2 separate regions of the Homo sapiens genome follow, and region 1 is linked to region 2. Evidence: fine-mapped expression QTL. Tissue or cell type: subcutaneous fat. Region 2 holds a variant in brackets; the other region holds the start of a gene. All regions are shown on one strand. Distances are between the middles of the regions.

The links. PIP is the estimated chance that this variant, and not a neighbour inherited with it, causes the effect.
Region 1: it holds the start of CACNA2D1, and the variant in region 2 is fine-mapped to the expression of CACNA2D1 in subcutaneous fat (TwinsUK, PIP 0.95).

Annotation. Positions count from the first base shown.
Region 1 is chr7:82,439,753-82,447,863 of GRCh38, forward strand. CACNA2D1 (calcium voltage-gated channel auxiliary subunit alpha2delta 1) reads right to left here and starts at 4,025. Exons shown (of 39, transcript NM_000722.4): 1 at 3,613-4,025. The coding sequence starts at 3,707. RefSeq lists an enhancer at 2,467-3,030.
Region 2 is chr7:82,164,460-82,172,570 of GRCh38, forward strand. It overlaps CACNA2D1 (calcium voltage-gated channel auxiliary subunit alpha2delta 1), which reads right to left. Exons shown (of 39, transcript NM_000722.4): 4 at 6,091-6,150. Among named protein-coding and RNA genes, the nearest start is that of CACNA2D1-AS1, 160 kb to the left of the region's middle. The variant C/T (reference allele first, on the strand shown) is at 3,422.

The DNA.
Region 1 (8,111 bases), 280 kb after region 2:
ATACATCTGTGGAATAGTAAATGTTATATGGTTAAGCCGATGAGAACAAAATTAAAGACTTGAGAAAAGTTTATTAATGTTCACTGTTTCAGGTTTTATTTTACATTTAATATTTTATCTCATAATTGATCATATGGCACATTTCCTTGTGTATGTAAAATGTAAACAGAAACTGCTGACTTCAAGTGAGAATAATTATGTCACTTATAATGCATGGAACAGATATCCATTACAATATCCTGACATACAAAATTTCTCCTTTATAGCCTTAAATACAAATTTCTCTAATAACAGGAAAAAAAAATATCCTAAGTAATTAAAGCCAAAAGTACTATACTTCTATGAGAATTTATGCTTATTTCCTGTGGATATCCACAATTCTTAGTTTTATATTTATACCATTGTACACTTTATATTAAAATCCCTGTATACCAATAGGCTCTCAGCCAATTATTGTAGACTGACTGGCATTTTGATGTGACTGAGATAAAAGTTTGATATTAACAGTTATAACTATATATTTTTTAATTGCATTTGTAAATAGATTCTAAAATTAAGGACAAATTTAAATTACCATTATAATACTGGCTATCACACATGTAATTCTAAATATTAAAATAGAAGTCTTTTAACATGTGACAAGAAATTATTTCTAGAAAAACGGACAACTACCCTTTTTGAAAGCTACATTTTAAAAATACCAATACGACATGTGCATACTATAGCATAAAAATGATATATTTTCCATTTATATATCAACCAATACACATTATGTGGCTGCTACCATATCATGTATTTATGTTTCACACCTTAGGGAGACAAACATTTCCAAAAGAAACACCTAACCCAGAGAAATAATCATATCAAAATTTCCTTGTCTGAAAAACATCTATTTTAGTGTTAACTCTTAGAACAGGTTAACTACTACTTTAATCCAAAAGAAAATTTATATTAGAATGTATGTTAAACAGGAGAGCAAAAAATGAAAGAAGATACTTAACTGACACATCATTTGTTTTACCATAATAGAATTTAAGCCCTTCACACAAATGTAAACACTCTATATTTTTAAAAAAAAACTTTGAACTACTAATTCTAATTGAAGTCCAACTCCAATTAGTGCATAATTAATTTTATAGTGTGTGATGGCATGCTCTTCCTCTTCAGCTGATAAAAACTTCTTACATTACTTTTTCTGTGAAAAATGAAACTGGCAAAAAAAAAAACCCAAAAATATTTACTAATGATTCCGAGAGAAATTTACATACAGAAGCATAATAATTTGCCTTTATTGACACTACAGTCTTTGCACTCAGTTTTTATAAATTTGAAATTTTCCCCCAAAGATTTGAGATTTGTCCTGATTAAACAGTGCATATGAATTCTTTTCTCGAAAGAAAAGCAAATGGCACATCTTTATGAAAAATATTGCATTTTTTAATTTCATAAAGTTTATTCAGAAATCTAACATGAAGTACAAATGTCAACCATCAGTTCTTTCCTCAGAAGACAGTGTTACTAACTTTTCAAATGAAAAACTGAAGATGCAGAAGGCTTCCAAAAATATTGTTAAGATTACCTACAGGAGATTGACTTCGCTCCACAAAACCTTTTATTAAGTATTTCATTCATTAAATAATCAATGTCTTATATAATTTGAAAATATCTTGAATTTTCATCGTTAAAAAAAATTTCAGATCCTTCCAAAGAAAAGAAATTGTGATGTCCTACTTCCCATTTTAACCCACTATATATACTCTTTCTTGTGTCTAGTAAATTTCTGACCATGAAAATTGATTTACTTATAATTTTAGGAAAGCATTATTGCAGATGTTCTTCTTAACAATAAGGATTTTTACATTAATATTTTACCACAGTATGTTGAGGAATAAAAGGTTGTATTTTGTTGTAGTTTTCCCCAATGGTATGATGATGTATCCCCTCCCATGATAAAAATATTGATAAATTGTCAGTTAAAAACAACACTGTAAAAATGAGTAATCGGAACACATTTAGGAAGTGATTGTTTTTTAAAGAGCCACTTATTTATTTGACACAGAATGCAAGCGACTCATTTGAGTTCTCACTTTACAGGCCAAGCAACAAACAGACTTAAAAAATTAAATGGAAGTGTGATGCCTTAATAAGAGTAAATAATTCTGAAGCATCCTTAGGGTGATTCTTACTCTTTTTATGTTTAAAAATATCTGACTGGAACATCCTGCCAATTAAACGAAGATCTCCAGATGGCATTTACCCTTTTGCTTCATAACAAAAAGGATCTGCAATCAGTTTTATGGAAGATTATCTAAAGAGGAACATTACTGTAACTCAATGACAACAAAAATTAGACACTCCCCTTCTCCGGGATAGAATGTGCATCCTCCAGATTCTTGCACTGACACCTAAGGTAATAAATACTTAAAACTGAATCTTAAATAATAGCCGCAGGATTTCAACCGCTAAAGATTCACTGTTACTTTCCACCAAAAACTCCTGTATTCAGCACTCAGCCAACAAAGGACAGCAAGTAATTCCCAGCAGCATAAATACCGGGAAAGCTACCTTGGGCTTTGTTTTTGTTATGTAAAATGCATTAAAGTGACTCATCCACTTAAGATTACCTACCTTTAGAAGCTTTAAAGAAGCTCCAAGAACCAAAATAAATGCTTTCCCAGAATGCCGGATAGGCTATTCGGTGCATTAAAAAATATGTATATATTTATATGTGCCATTGAGTTTGATTCTATTTTGCTAAGAAAGGAGAGAATTATTATTTTTCATTCCCTTCCTGTGGTGTGACTATAGCTACCTATAAGCCCTCTATTTCCAGAACAGCAGCGAGGTTTTTAAAAGTTATTTTAGAAATGGTAAAAATAAAAGAAAATTTGTAGGAGACTGGAAATAGTCCCTCCTTCAAAGAATAGGCTCTATTCATTTGAAGAACAGGGACCGCGTGTCTGCCGACACTTAGATGTTTCAAATAATGGGTTGGGGAGGTTGGATCGCGTGGTCCCAGTACCTGCGAGCCCCCTGCGTGGACAGCACGCTCGGCCGCGGGGAGCCAGCACGCGTCTAATCGGAAGGCTGTCAAGTGCATCCAGTAACGTGGGATAAAACGAGTTTGGGCACTACAGCAATTAAAGAGCATCTCCGAGGCCAAGTGCGGGGGAAGTCCACGCTACCTCGGCAAGCCTGAAATTACCTGTTTGTAAATTACCCAACCAAAACATAACTTTTTATTGAACTGGGTTGAATCAGAGCGGGTGAGCTGGCTGGAAACTTTTTTCCCCAGTACGGCTGCACTCTGAAGTCTAGAGAATCCCGTTAGAGACGGGCTGAGACGCCGCGAGTCGTCGGCGGGCGCTTCCCGGGACAGTCGGCCCCCAGTGCCCGGCCCCGTGGAGGCGCCCGAGACGCCGGTTCGGGACGCATTCCAGCGGCGAGCGGCGCGCACCGCCTGCCCGGCGTCTCCGCATCCGAGCCTGGCTCCCCGGCCGCTCGCTCCCCACCCCCACGGGCGGAAAAGCCCCGCGACTCGGGAACCGACCCCCACCCCCAACTCCCGCGGCGCCCCTCGGCCGGCGCTCCCTGCCCGGCCCGCCGACTTACGTGACGGCCGAAGGGAACGGCTCCTCCGACGAGGGGCCGATGAGCAAAGATTGGAAAAGTGTCAGAGTCAAGGCCAGCAGGCAGCCAGCAGCCATCTTCGCGATCGAAGATCAATGCCCCCTCCCTGCCCAAGCGGGGGAAGGAGCGGCGCTGGAAACCGCGGGCGGAGGAAGAGCAGCACACGCCGCCGGGACCGCGGGCGTCTGGAGGGCTGGCTGCGCCCGGGGCCCGAGGCGCGGAGCCGCGCGGGGGACGGCAAGGGCGGGAGCGGACGCCGAGGAAGGGGCGGTGGCGGGCGGACCCACTAGCGTGCGTCGGCTGCTCCGCGCCGCGGCCGCCTTGCCTCCGCCGCCATCAAGGGCGACTTTGGAAACAGACCTCGGCGAGCCCGCCGGCGCTCGCGCGCTCTCGCTCTCCCTCTCGGTTTCCTCCCTGATTTATTCCCCCGATTGCCGAGGCGAAGGCGGAGGCGGGGGCGGGGGCGGAGGAGGGGTGACGGCGCTGGAGGGTGGGGGTGGCTGCAGGAATCGGGGAATGGCAGGCAGAGAGACTTGTGGAAGCGAGAGGCTCCGTCTGGCTTCTTAGGCAAGTCAGAGGGAGGCGGCTGGGGGTGGGCAGCGGGAGGGCTGGGCGTCAGAGCAGTCGGGCGGAGACGGGCCGGGAGCAGCCCTCCATACAAGGCAGCCAGGAACTCCCAAAGTCGGCGCCGGCTCGCTCCCGCCGCCCGGCGTGCGCAGGCGGAGCGGACCAGCCCCGCGGGGCTCCCGGGGGACGGCCAGCCGCCCAGCGGGCATCCACAGGCTGCAGAGGCTCCAACCCAGGACTTGGCTCGCGTCTTCGGGGGTTATTTTTGCACATGCAGGCAGCGTTCCCCCCCAGCCCTACTCCCAGGCGCAGAATCCAGTGCCTGCCTGGGAATCGTGAAGTGATTTGACAACAAATGTAGGAGGGGTTTGTATTGCATTTTAAAGCACCACTGTTGACTCTCTACCAGGTGGCACTATATGCCCGCGTGTGCCATAGGTTAGAGCCTCTGCCGGGGCTGGGTGCCCTTTGTGCCAGCGGTCCCACGCCCAGGTACTGCTCGGCTCACCTGGCGAGGACAGAGCCTCAGGGACCGGGCTGTGGACGGACAGAGAAGTACTGACGCTGTAAAATCTTCCCAGCCCTGTGGTTCCATTGGACAGAGGGGTGGAGGGACGAATTCTGCATCTAGGGAGGACAGTAGTAAGAGAAGCGCTTTGCAGCATCCCAGTTGGGACTACCTCCAAAAGGGTCCTAACGCCCTGCTCTGGCCACTGGCCTGCCCTGCCTGACAAGGTTACCGCAGGGTGAGCTCACTTTTGTCAATGCGAAGGCATGAAAAGGGTAAGCAGCAGGAACAGGTGGCACTCTGAGAAATGCGCCTGAAATGTAGAGGAGGAATTAAGGGAGGGGGAGAGAGCTAGGGAGTAGCAATGCCGGACTGGTTTTATCTCCAGACTCAGAGGAAGCAGTGGCGGGCTTTCTCCTTGAAAAGACAGGGTCTGCGACTAGGCCTCTCCCGCCCAACACAGGCCTCCTACAAGAGGGCCCTGGTGGGCCAAAGATAGAAATATATTCTTGCACACCTTAAATTCTTAAGCTCCCTCTAGTAGTGTATGAGAATACTTTTGACATGACGTGCAGAGAATACAATTTGTGATGACTATCCTGCATATGCAAAAATTCTGTAAGTATCGGGGTGGCTGTCAGATTTTTAATTAGCCCGTTCTTATTTTTAGGAGATGCTTCTGAAAGAAAAAGACCCTTATTAATTCGAAATGAATTTTCCAGCTCTCTGAAGGCAATCTCCCAAAACAAAGACTAATAATAATACTACTACTATTAATTACTGGCCAAATTTTAAGAGCGTGTGTGATTTTATGATGCTTAGCCTGGTGAATTTATTTTTCCTTCCCACTTATTTCTCCTTTTTTTAATGCCTTATTTGTTTTCTTTATGTTCTTCGCATCTCTGTCTTGCTCTTTGTTTCTTTCTACTCTGAGTGGCCTCACAAAAGGCACCCCACCGTGACTTAACTTAGTTTGTTTTATGCTAGGCATGGATACTGTGGCAGCAGGAGCTGCGCAAATGAGGGATGAAGTGGGATGTAATGGGATTGAGAACTACAGCTCAGGAGGGATATTTTATATAACTGAAGATAGCATTCCACTCCAAAATTAGATAAGTAAATAGTCAAATCCATCATTTCTTCCATTTTTAATAATTCAAAAGCAGACTTTCTTCCCCAGCATGAGGACTAAGAAGAGCAGAATTAGAGATGCCCATTATTGTCTATGTGATATGTTGGTATCAATAGCCTCACTACCTAAAAATACCATTGTTATATATTCTGTCAATTATTTCAACATCAACTCCAGACTTCCCACTATGGTACACTGTTTCCAATTTTATATCTTTAGGAGAAAGGGCTTAAAGAATAAAAGAATGTAATAAGCTTGTAGAGAAGGTAAGTCAGCCTTTATTATTAACTTTGTTGGCCTTTGAGCCAAATCTCAATTTCTTTGGATCACTCTGTTGAAGCACTGAGTTCTCCAATATGTGAAGCTGTTGAGGAAAGATATTGCTTCTACAATTCTTACTGAAAGGGTTGGTTATCATCTGTGAGCCTAAATCATTGTTTAATACTCTGTTGCGAGGTTTGCTATTAATTGCTTTTTACCAATCTAAACCTTCTTATTGAGGATATTCAAAATGTGGTTTTTTTTTAAATGTATGACAGCTAAAAGAAGACCATTTCCATAACATAGCATTAGGTTTCTGTTGGATTAACTATACCCATAACAATGCATTTTTTCAGCTCAGTTCTGTTATTTTGGAAAATTCCCTTAAAATCAGATTATATCCCATTAATCTTAATAAAATTTTGCTTAATCACGATAAATTTGCTGTTCAACATGTTGACAAATCATAAGGATTGTTGTTAAGCTGTTATAGTAAATGATGTAAATGTGCAGTAAATACAGTTAATATATTACAGGTTATAAATGAGCAAGAAGTCGCAAATCAGTATCTACTATTCATTTAAGAAGAAATATTTTAATTAGTAAGTTAGTGAAGTATTGCAGGAGATTTTTGCATTTAATCATTTCTAGAACAAAGTTTAAAGAGATTTAATTCATGCAAATCACTGACCTTTACCTACAACAAACTTGCGATTGGCACCTTTTGGCTAAATCTCAGTTTTTAATTCATATATTTAATTTGTTCATATACATTTCATTTTTTAGTAACTAAAAGTGAATAAAGAACAATAAAAACTTGATTGCCATGAAATGTTTATTCTTCCTTTTTTTAGGTGATACTGTGAATGTTGGCAGCATAAAATTATGTTTTTGTTGTAGTTTTTATATGAGTATATGTATGTACAAACATTTTTCTGTGATTTTTTTCAGTAAATCAAATCTAATTTCTTCAACATTTTGCCTGAAAAAATGAGACAGAGTAACCTAATTGAAATTATTTAATCTTTCTCTCTTTTTGTTCTCATGTACAAACAGGCAAACCCAAACACTGAAAAGGAAAATAATTATCCTTAGCCAAAAAAATTTAAAGGAAATAATTAACTTTCATATTACTTTCCACATCTTAAGAAAACTAAGGTGAAAACCTTGACAAAGGGCCTTATTTGCTTGTATGCATATAGGTGTATATGACTCATCTCTGAGATAGACATACTGTTAAGAGTCATAATCAGAAAAACTTGTGATTTGAGATGGTACTATGCTTCCATGCACACAAAGATGTGTGCCAGAGAAAGTGAAAAGTAAAGACAAATGGAAAGAAAGCTTCAACAATCTTACTTCTTTGGGGAATACTTTCAAGAGACAGGAATAAGAAAGCAAGCAATTCAGAAGTATCAATGCTCAGGAGAATGGTTAAAAGAGTGTGTAGTGATTTTTAAGTCAAGAGTTTATATTTGGCATTTTTAAAGTGAAGTGGCACATTGAAGCCTGCATAAAAAATAAAAAGCATAGAAAAGGAACTATCCTAAACTAATAAACAAGGTAAAATATTTTCTACAAACAAGACAACTATTTAGAAAAAAATTTGCCTTGACCCAAGTAATACAGCTATTGAAATGATAGGGCATTGAATTTCTGATGAAAGAAATACCTTTTCTAAAGAGATGCATAGTAACATTAAACAAGTATTTATTGGAAGTTTATTATTTGTCCATCAGAGTCCCCATATTGGCAAACTTATGCTAGTTTAAATATTTAGAAAAAAGTAGCTGTTATATTTTAAAATACCATCATGTCTTCAAGCAATAACTTCAATATTATTTTATTTTGAATCTCTAATCATAGAATTTTTCTTTCAATTTCTTTTTCTTGTTTTATTTTACTCTTTCTCTCCCGTTTCCTCCATTAAACAAACACATTCAGAAAAAATCAGGGCCTACAACATGACTTCCTATTTAAACAAAACAAAACTATTCATCTCTAAAATCTGAA
Region 2 (8,111 bases):
ATGAAGAAATTGGAGAAAGAAGAAATTTCTAGGCAGAGATTATCAAAAGGTCTGAAAGTGAAGAAAAGAATACTGTTCTAGGGAAATGTCCAGTCATTTACTCTGCTTTGAGCTTAGAATTTCAGGACAGGAGTAATAGCTGCTGGAGAGATTATGCAATACAAAATTTAGGAAAGGCTAGATGGGGCCAGGTCATAAAGGGCTTAGTATACCCTAAATATATGCTATTAATAAATGGAGAGTCACTGAAGATTTTTGAACAAGGATATGAAATGGATGGAAATACGTATATGGAGTAAATCTTCTTAGATTATGCATTAAATGAAAATTGCAGTAATTTGTAATGCTTATGTATTTTTTTCTTAATTTTTTTATTTTGCAGTTCAGAAATACAGTACACTCCCATTTTAATGCAAATAAGCAGTATACAACAATTTTAATAAAATGTAGCTCAAGTTACGGAGAGGCTAATGAAATTGGAGTTCAAAAACCCTCTTTTGACAGCTGCAATTCGGTACCAGCTGGTGGCAGTAATCTACTCCAGACTAAACATCAATGAGGATGATTCAGCTCTGCATGGCTGAAATTTTTAGGACATTGGCAGCAATCCCAGGAATCTCCCAATAATTTAGCACTATTTTCATCATCTCAATCCCAGGATATTGAAGCAGCGGATTGGTCCTGAAAATATAGAGAACCACCTTCTACCTCCCCATTTCCTAAGCCAAGGGTGTTTGTCCTCTTTTAACTTTTCCCTCCTTTCCTGAGAGGAGAGGGAAGGAAGAGAAAGAAGGAAATTTACCCAGCCTCATTTATATCTACATGTACTTTATCACAGGACATATCATCATGATGTCTGACTGCAGGGGCTTCCACTGTACTATCACGTACTATTGTCATTTTGGCTTTAATAGAAATGGAAAGTGAGGTCAGTAAAATCATTAGAAAATATTAAAAATTGTTAACTGTGAAACCAGTGTTTTTGACTAGGTAATTAATGATTAAATATTTTGCTTCTTTTCAATATAAAAAACAAAAGAGATAGGTTATCACCCAGCATAACTAACAATTTAAAGCCCATGGTTAATATTTTTTATGCTGGTGTTGTAATACTCTTACCATGGCATTTATACGTATGCATGAACAACAACAGTAAGGCACACAAATACGCCTGACTCCTTTACATTACATTGGTTTTCCAGAATTTTGGAGTAAATGAGCTTTGCATTATGGCTTTTAATCTATCTTTATGATGAAGATAAAGTCTCAAGACTCTTAAAAAGCCGTAACAAAAAATTGTTTCCCTACATAGCAGAAATGTTGCAAAAACATTAAAATATGCAAGCTCTTGATTTCAAGAGTGTTTCAACCAAAGGTGGAAACTAAGAAAGACTAAATAAAGCCAGAGCCTAAAATCATTTTGGTGATCTATTAAAATTCACTTATTTATTCATTAAGACAATGCTACGCTCTCACTTTTTATCCCTAAAAGTCAGTTCTTTCAATATCCAAGACCTCATACCAAGTGACTGTCTGTCTTCGATTCTAAGTAAAACAAATACAGTGTGTTTTCCCATTCCACATATTCAAAAATGTTTCTGCTACAATCAATAAAAACGATGCAATTTCATGAAATGAATAAGGATAGATGAAATGATTAAATACATAATGCCGGTGCCTATTAGTTTAACTCGCATAAACACAAAATTTAAAATATCAACATTTCAAAATATGATTTGGCAAAGTAATTTTAATATTATAAAATTAAAGCTATAACTGGAGAACTAAATTAGCCTGACGGACACTCAATAACGTACAACTTCACTAGAAACATTTTCACCTTCTAATTTACTTTGTGAAGCTGAAGCTAAAAGGGACTCTTCAAATGTTTTATTTACCGGCCAATTTCTAGACGTCTGTACTCTGCCTGCACAGTAACAAGCTGGTGCTAATAAGCCATACATAAAGATCCTACTTATTAAAATACAAATTAGACACCCCTTATGTTTATACATGTGTAAGTACAATTAATATTGCAAGCTTCCTTGGAAACAAAATTGCTTTAGTTAACCAACCATTGCAATGCAATCAAATGAGATTTGAAATGCAATTGGAAAAGATCTGTTTGGTAGAAATAGCAATTATTTCATGCAGAACAATTAGCTTTCCAAGCTCTTTTTTGCTTCTCCCACCTGCCCTTAATAGAATAATTTGTCCATCATAAGTGACATGAAATGTCACCTTTAACACCCATAAATTGTATGGAGACCTAGCAGGCAGCTGGTAGACATAGCTTATTTACAAATATTAGTTTGAACTTGTAAATGCATGACCACATAAATCTTAATCCATTTAGGGTGTACGCCCTTTGTTCCCTCAATTGTGTATTCAGTTGGGAATTGAATGGAGCTGAGAGAGAGTGTGAATTGCATAAGTCCTTTGTTGTTGCCAGCATATTAGTGCTTTGCCTTTTGTTCTTGTTGTTCATGAGATTTCTCTACATTACACAGTAGGGAAGGTTAATCAACATTTTGCCTAAGTAATATTAATGAAACTTGCCTACTTACACTTGAGGGAAGAATCAGAATATTACATTGCTCTTTGAAATGTTAATGTACCTTTTAGGAAATTATGTCTGCCTTCTAAATCATCTTAGTGTTAAATTATTAAAGGATGGCATTAAAGAAATATTGCACAGATGCACATTGTTAAATACCTTAAAAGATAAAAGAATTATAAAGTTTAAAAGAAGGACCTTTTGAAAGATGATAAAATTTATCTTCAAATTAACCATTTTTAAATGTTTGGTTAAAATATTGAGAAAATTTACAATTGTTTTGTGTGCTTTCACAAAACAAGAGATTTAATGTTAATGATTTATAAGTTTCAACCACGAATTTGAACTGTATTCTGCTCTGGTCTTGAAGGATTTATTTAACCTTGCTGTATCTGTGCACTAAAGCACCACCTAGTTTATTAGGAACAAAAAAAAAGCTGAGAGGAATGTATTATTTTTGTACTTTTTACTTATTTGAGTCTTAAGATTAGATAGTCTTCATTGAGGTTCTATTCTCCAAGCACAAAAACGACCACTATCTAAACCTTCTATCACTCTATGGCATTTCAAAGGGAAGGGCTATCATAAAGACTATGTATGGCTGCCAAGGTTAGATATGGGAAATAGCAATTCTCAATGTGCAAACTGTGACAGACCTGTGTCCTGTCAACATCATTCACGGTCCTTCAGGAAGGATGCTCAGGAAATGAGTTGACAGGACTCTAAGTGGTCTAACTTGTTTTCCCTTTAACAGTCTCTTTTGATGTCAATCAGTATGTCAACAGGCCCTAAATAAATTGTGAGGTAACCAAGGGGGAAATTAGGAACAGAATTTCTTCAAGAATTCTCCCACATGGTGACCAC[C/T]ATTTGCTAAGAATTCCTAATACTTACTGGGCAAATAATTCATTTTCTATTTCACCATAGAAGATTTAGTAATGGCTTTTGTATTATTGTGGGACTGATTTGTCCTCTTGCACAATGTTTTTTTAGCAGTACTGCTACTTGGATAGAGGCACCAAAAAAGTAGAAAATAAGGGTTACATTTCAAGATAATTTTTTTCACTTTTTGACATCTCTAAGAATACAGCATACAATTGCTGATGCATCATAATTTAAGTGGCTTTTTTGGTGGGGGCTTGGGGGAGATGAGGTCTCTCTCTGTTGCCCAGGCTGGAGTAGTACAGTGTCATGATCTTGGCTCACTGCACCCTCCACCTCCCAGGTTCAAGTGATTCTCCTGCCTCAGCCTACCAAGTAGCTGGGATTACAGGCATGCACCACCACGCACAGCTAATTTTTGTATTTTTAGTGGAGATAGGGTTTCTCCATGTTGACAAGGCTGGTTTTGAACTTCTGGCCTAAAGTAATCCACCCACCTTGGCCTCCCAAAGTGCTGGGATTACAGGTGTAAGCCACCATGCCCGGCCAAGTGGCTTTTTCTTAGAAATAACTAAAATAAATAGAATGACTAAGTGCCTTACAATTGATGATTTACATTCAATAAAATATGGTAATAGCAAACTTGAATTTAGAGTTTTTGTATTGTGTTTGTGTTGTGGTTACCCATTACCTCAATATAGAAAACAAAATAATTGCCAAATGTTAGTGTTAATGAGCCCAATATTAAAGAGTTCACAATGTCTAGGAAATGAAACCTTATGTCTAGAAATTAATAAATAATAGTTAAATGAAACAACAATGATATAGGCATTACTACAACCCTACTTGCCAAGTTATTTTTTTCCACATTATTGCTCTTTAGAAAAGTGAAAACAACATACAACTAATAAATGACTACTTAAAATACTACCAAATGAATTTAAGGCAAAGAAAAAGGGTGCTTTGAACAGGGAATGTATAATCTATATATTTCAGAGGCTGAGTTTGTGTGTCTGTTTTGAGTTCTCCGAATTACTGAAGATTCAAACTAAAACAGCACCAAGGGTATTATATCTATGCTAGGCAGAATACATGATCTAGCCATACATCTATTATGACTTTACACTGCTTTTACCATGCACGCTTTATGTTGTGGGACATAAGGGAAGAGTAATTTATATTTAATGTTGTTAATCAAACATATATTTAGCTAGATTTGTTTTGCTGCTTTTTCCCTATTTGCAAAAACAAAAAAAATCGTTTTTATCTAAAAGCAACTAAGTATATTGTAAGCCTCTTCATTCACTAGATGAGCTTACAGTTTGCTCGATGCTCTAGGAGCTTATGTTTTTAGCTTAATCATTGATTTTTTCCTTAATATATCATGGATAGCAAATTGATCTTTATTAACCTGTGTATGATAAAGGTTGTAGACAAAGCCAATACCTACATAATATTAATACCAATCAAGTTAAGTGATATGATCAGTTCAGTAGAGAATCAAACAAACTGGCAGTTGTCAAATAGAGTCTCTCATTAGTAGACTGTTTAAAATATATAAATAAGTGATAAACAGTAAAAATAAATAATATCACAAGTATCAAGAATGGAAGACTATTATATACATGAATTAAATATCATTTAGTGCATTTTCCTTTGATATTCAACATAATCATAGAAACACAAAGAAGTGCTAATTCTTAAACCTCAGTTTAGTGTCTACTGAAGCACAACTACATACCTTCAAATTTGAGACTTTTGCTTTGCAAAGAGTACAATTAAGCTGTCGCTCACATTCTAAACCTATTTTAAATGTGGGAAGGTAGAGGGCAGTTGTTTACATCCCCAAAATGAGTTGTCTGGAAGTTTTCTGTGATCAGAAATTATAAAGATTTTCTTTCACTACAACTGTAATCACTCAAGTATGTAACAGAAGTACTTTCTGATTATTAAGGAATTTTTTTTTTTTTACTGTGCCCCTTGGCTATAAGAGGATAGATAAATGATAGATATGCAGACCTTACCACAAGGAGAATTTCTGCTATTTCTATAAACTAGTAACTCTTAGTTCATAAAACAAGTTTATTAAGAAAAAAAAAACATGCAACCGCTAATGTCAGCTGACATTTCTCAAAGTAGGCCAGAGTAGAAGAGAGATTACTTCTAGCTAAAGTGAAGCAAATTAAATTTTAAGAAGTTGAATATATTCATTCTCACTTTCATCATATTGCCCACCATCAAGGTGATTATAATATGTATACTGCTTCTTACAAACTCAAAGTAGTTAAAAGCAACTTTTTCCAACTTGTATATTCATAATATCGACAAAAATTATTCAGATATTAAAATTTAATGCTATTTTTAATGTATTTTATAAATAATGTACCTTTAATTATGGGAGAACATTTCAAGGGTTTTAAAGGGTTTTTTGGTTTTTGTTTTTTTTTGGTAATATGGAACATAAAGTACATTTTGGCTAACTTAATTGGCCCTGATTACCCAAAAGCAATTTATTTAAAAAGCAACAAGTATGATTATTTTTAATCCCACAACATCATAAGATTCCATCATTAAAATATATTTTAATATGCATGTAATTATCCATACACAATATGTCAAGCTATTTAAATCAAGTAGTTAAAAGGGGTTCTTACTGCAAAATCTTCTCTCCACTGGTGAGCTGCTTGAACTTTCTCCGCTTCCAATGCCAGGCGCTGAAAAACAAACAATAAATCTTAGAATTCAAATGAACACGTAATATGGAATTGTTATATAAAATGCTTGCGCTTTCTAATCAATTTTGAGGACATAAAAAGCAGAAGATGATCCTTATTTATGATTCATAAATTCTAAATCATTTAGTAATCTAACCTACTAAAGTTGATGTTTGTATATTTACTCTTCAGCAATATAAATAATATACTATTCTTGAATACCATTAAGTTTGTTACCTCTGCCATCATCAGCTATAGTGTCCTCTATGAGTGCTTTCTTTCAATGACTAATACTTCAGTTTTTAGAAAAACACTTAAGTATACTAATTTTCATAGAATCTTATTTTTAGTAAATACCTTTGGAGCATACATTTCTCTTAAAAAATGACATTGAGAGATTAATATGCACTAAACAATATACTAGGCACCTTCTTAAATGCATATTGAGTTTTTACCAAAAGCCACAAAAGCTGAAATAACTTCCCCTTTGATGAAGTACATCTTTAGTAGTTCTTTCAGCGATAATCTTTGATAGAGGATTTGTGCATCTTAAAATTGCTTTATTTCACCTTCAATCGTGTATGCTAAAGTAGTTAAGAATTATAAGCCAATTTATTTTCCTATAGCACTTTCGAAATGCTATTCCATTAAGTTCAGTGGGAGATGACATTGCTAGTGTCAGCCTGCCAATCACTTTTTATAAACTTTTTTTTCCCCTATTCCAATAGCTTTTAGACTTTTCTCTTTGTATTTTTCAACTTCACTATGATGTTCTCCATGTGATAGGCTTTCATAAGACAGTGACATTTAATGGTTAGGAACACAGAGTTGGGGACCCGACTGCCTAGATTTGAATATCAGCCCTTGCAAACTACTAGCTGTGCAACCTTGGGAAAAGTTAAGACTCTTCTCCCATTCTCTCATGTGAGTAATGTGAAAGCCTGCCTCATGGCTTATTGGAAGGACTAAATGAGTTACAAAGTGCTTAGAACAGTGCCTGGCACAAACTAAACAATATATATGTCAACTATCAACTTCAAAGAGTAATGGTTCTGTTTTCTCCCTGGATCCCCTAGAGAAAATAGTGCAGTGTTGAGTTTATTTGTGGTTTGCCTTATGCAGCTAGAAGATAGTGATAAAACTGAGCAAACAGAAAAGTAAATATAATAAATATACTAAACTCACTTATTAAGGTATAGAAATTATCAGGTTAGGTTTAAAAAATTACAAATCTCAGAGTCATTTATTGATTCATGCTGTTTGTGATCTATGAACTATTCCTTAGCGTAAGTTCTTCCTGTGGAGGTCCAGTCTACACTGGATAAACATCCTTCTAGACCAGTTTTTATATTAATGTATTGGCTTCTATCCCTGTGATTATAATCTATTCATTTTTCTAAGCTGTTGCATAGGTTTTATCAGTGACTCTATAATATTGCCTAGTGGGAGATCTCAATTTAAGAGTCCCAAAGCTAAATTTAAGTGAAAATCTATCATAGTGTGCCAAAAGGACAATGGTTTTGTTTTTCACTACTAGGTAGAAATGGAGTATATAAGAAGCTAGGAAATGTTAGAAATTGTACCACATAGAGTAACCAAAAGGCGGCTCCCTCTCCCTACAAAAACAAAAAACTAAGCAGCAAAGCCAAAAGACAAGCATATACATTTCAGGAACACTGCATCATAATACTTTTAGAAACTCAACTTCACATGAAAAATGAAGCAAAACATGAATAAAATGGCAAAAGGAATGGAAATGGAAGCAACTCTTCTATAGAAACACTTCAGTATGGGAAGATAAGGAAAGAGAAGATAGAATGAGAAAATAAGCATGAAGGCTTTTTCTTTTTTTCTTTGTTTTGATATAGGGTCTCACTCTGTCTCCCAGCCTGGAGTACAGTGGTGCAATCATAGCTCCCTGCAGCCTTGACCTCCTGGGCTCAAGTGATCCTCCCACTTCA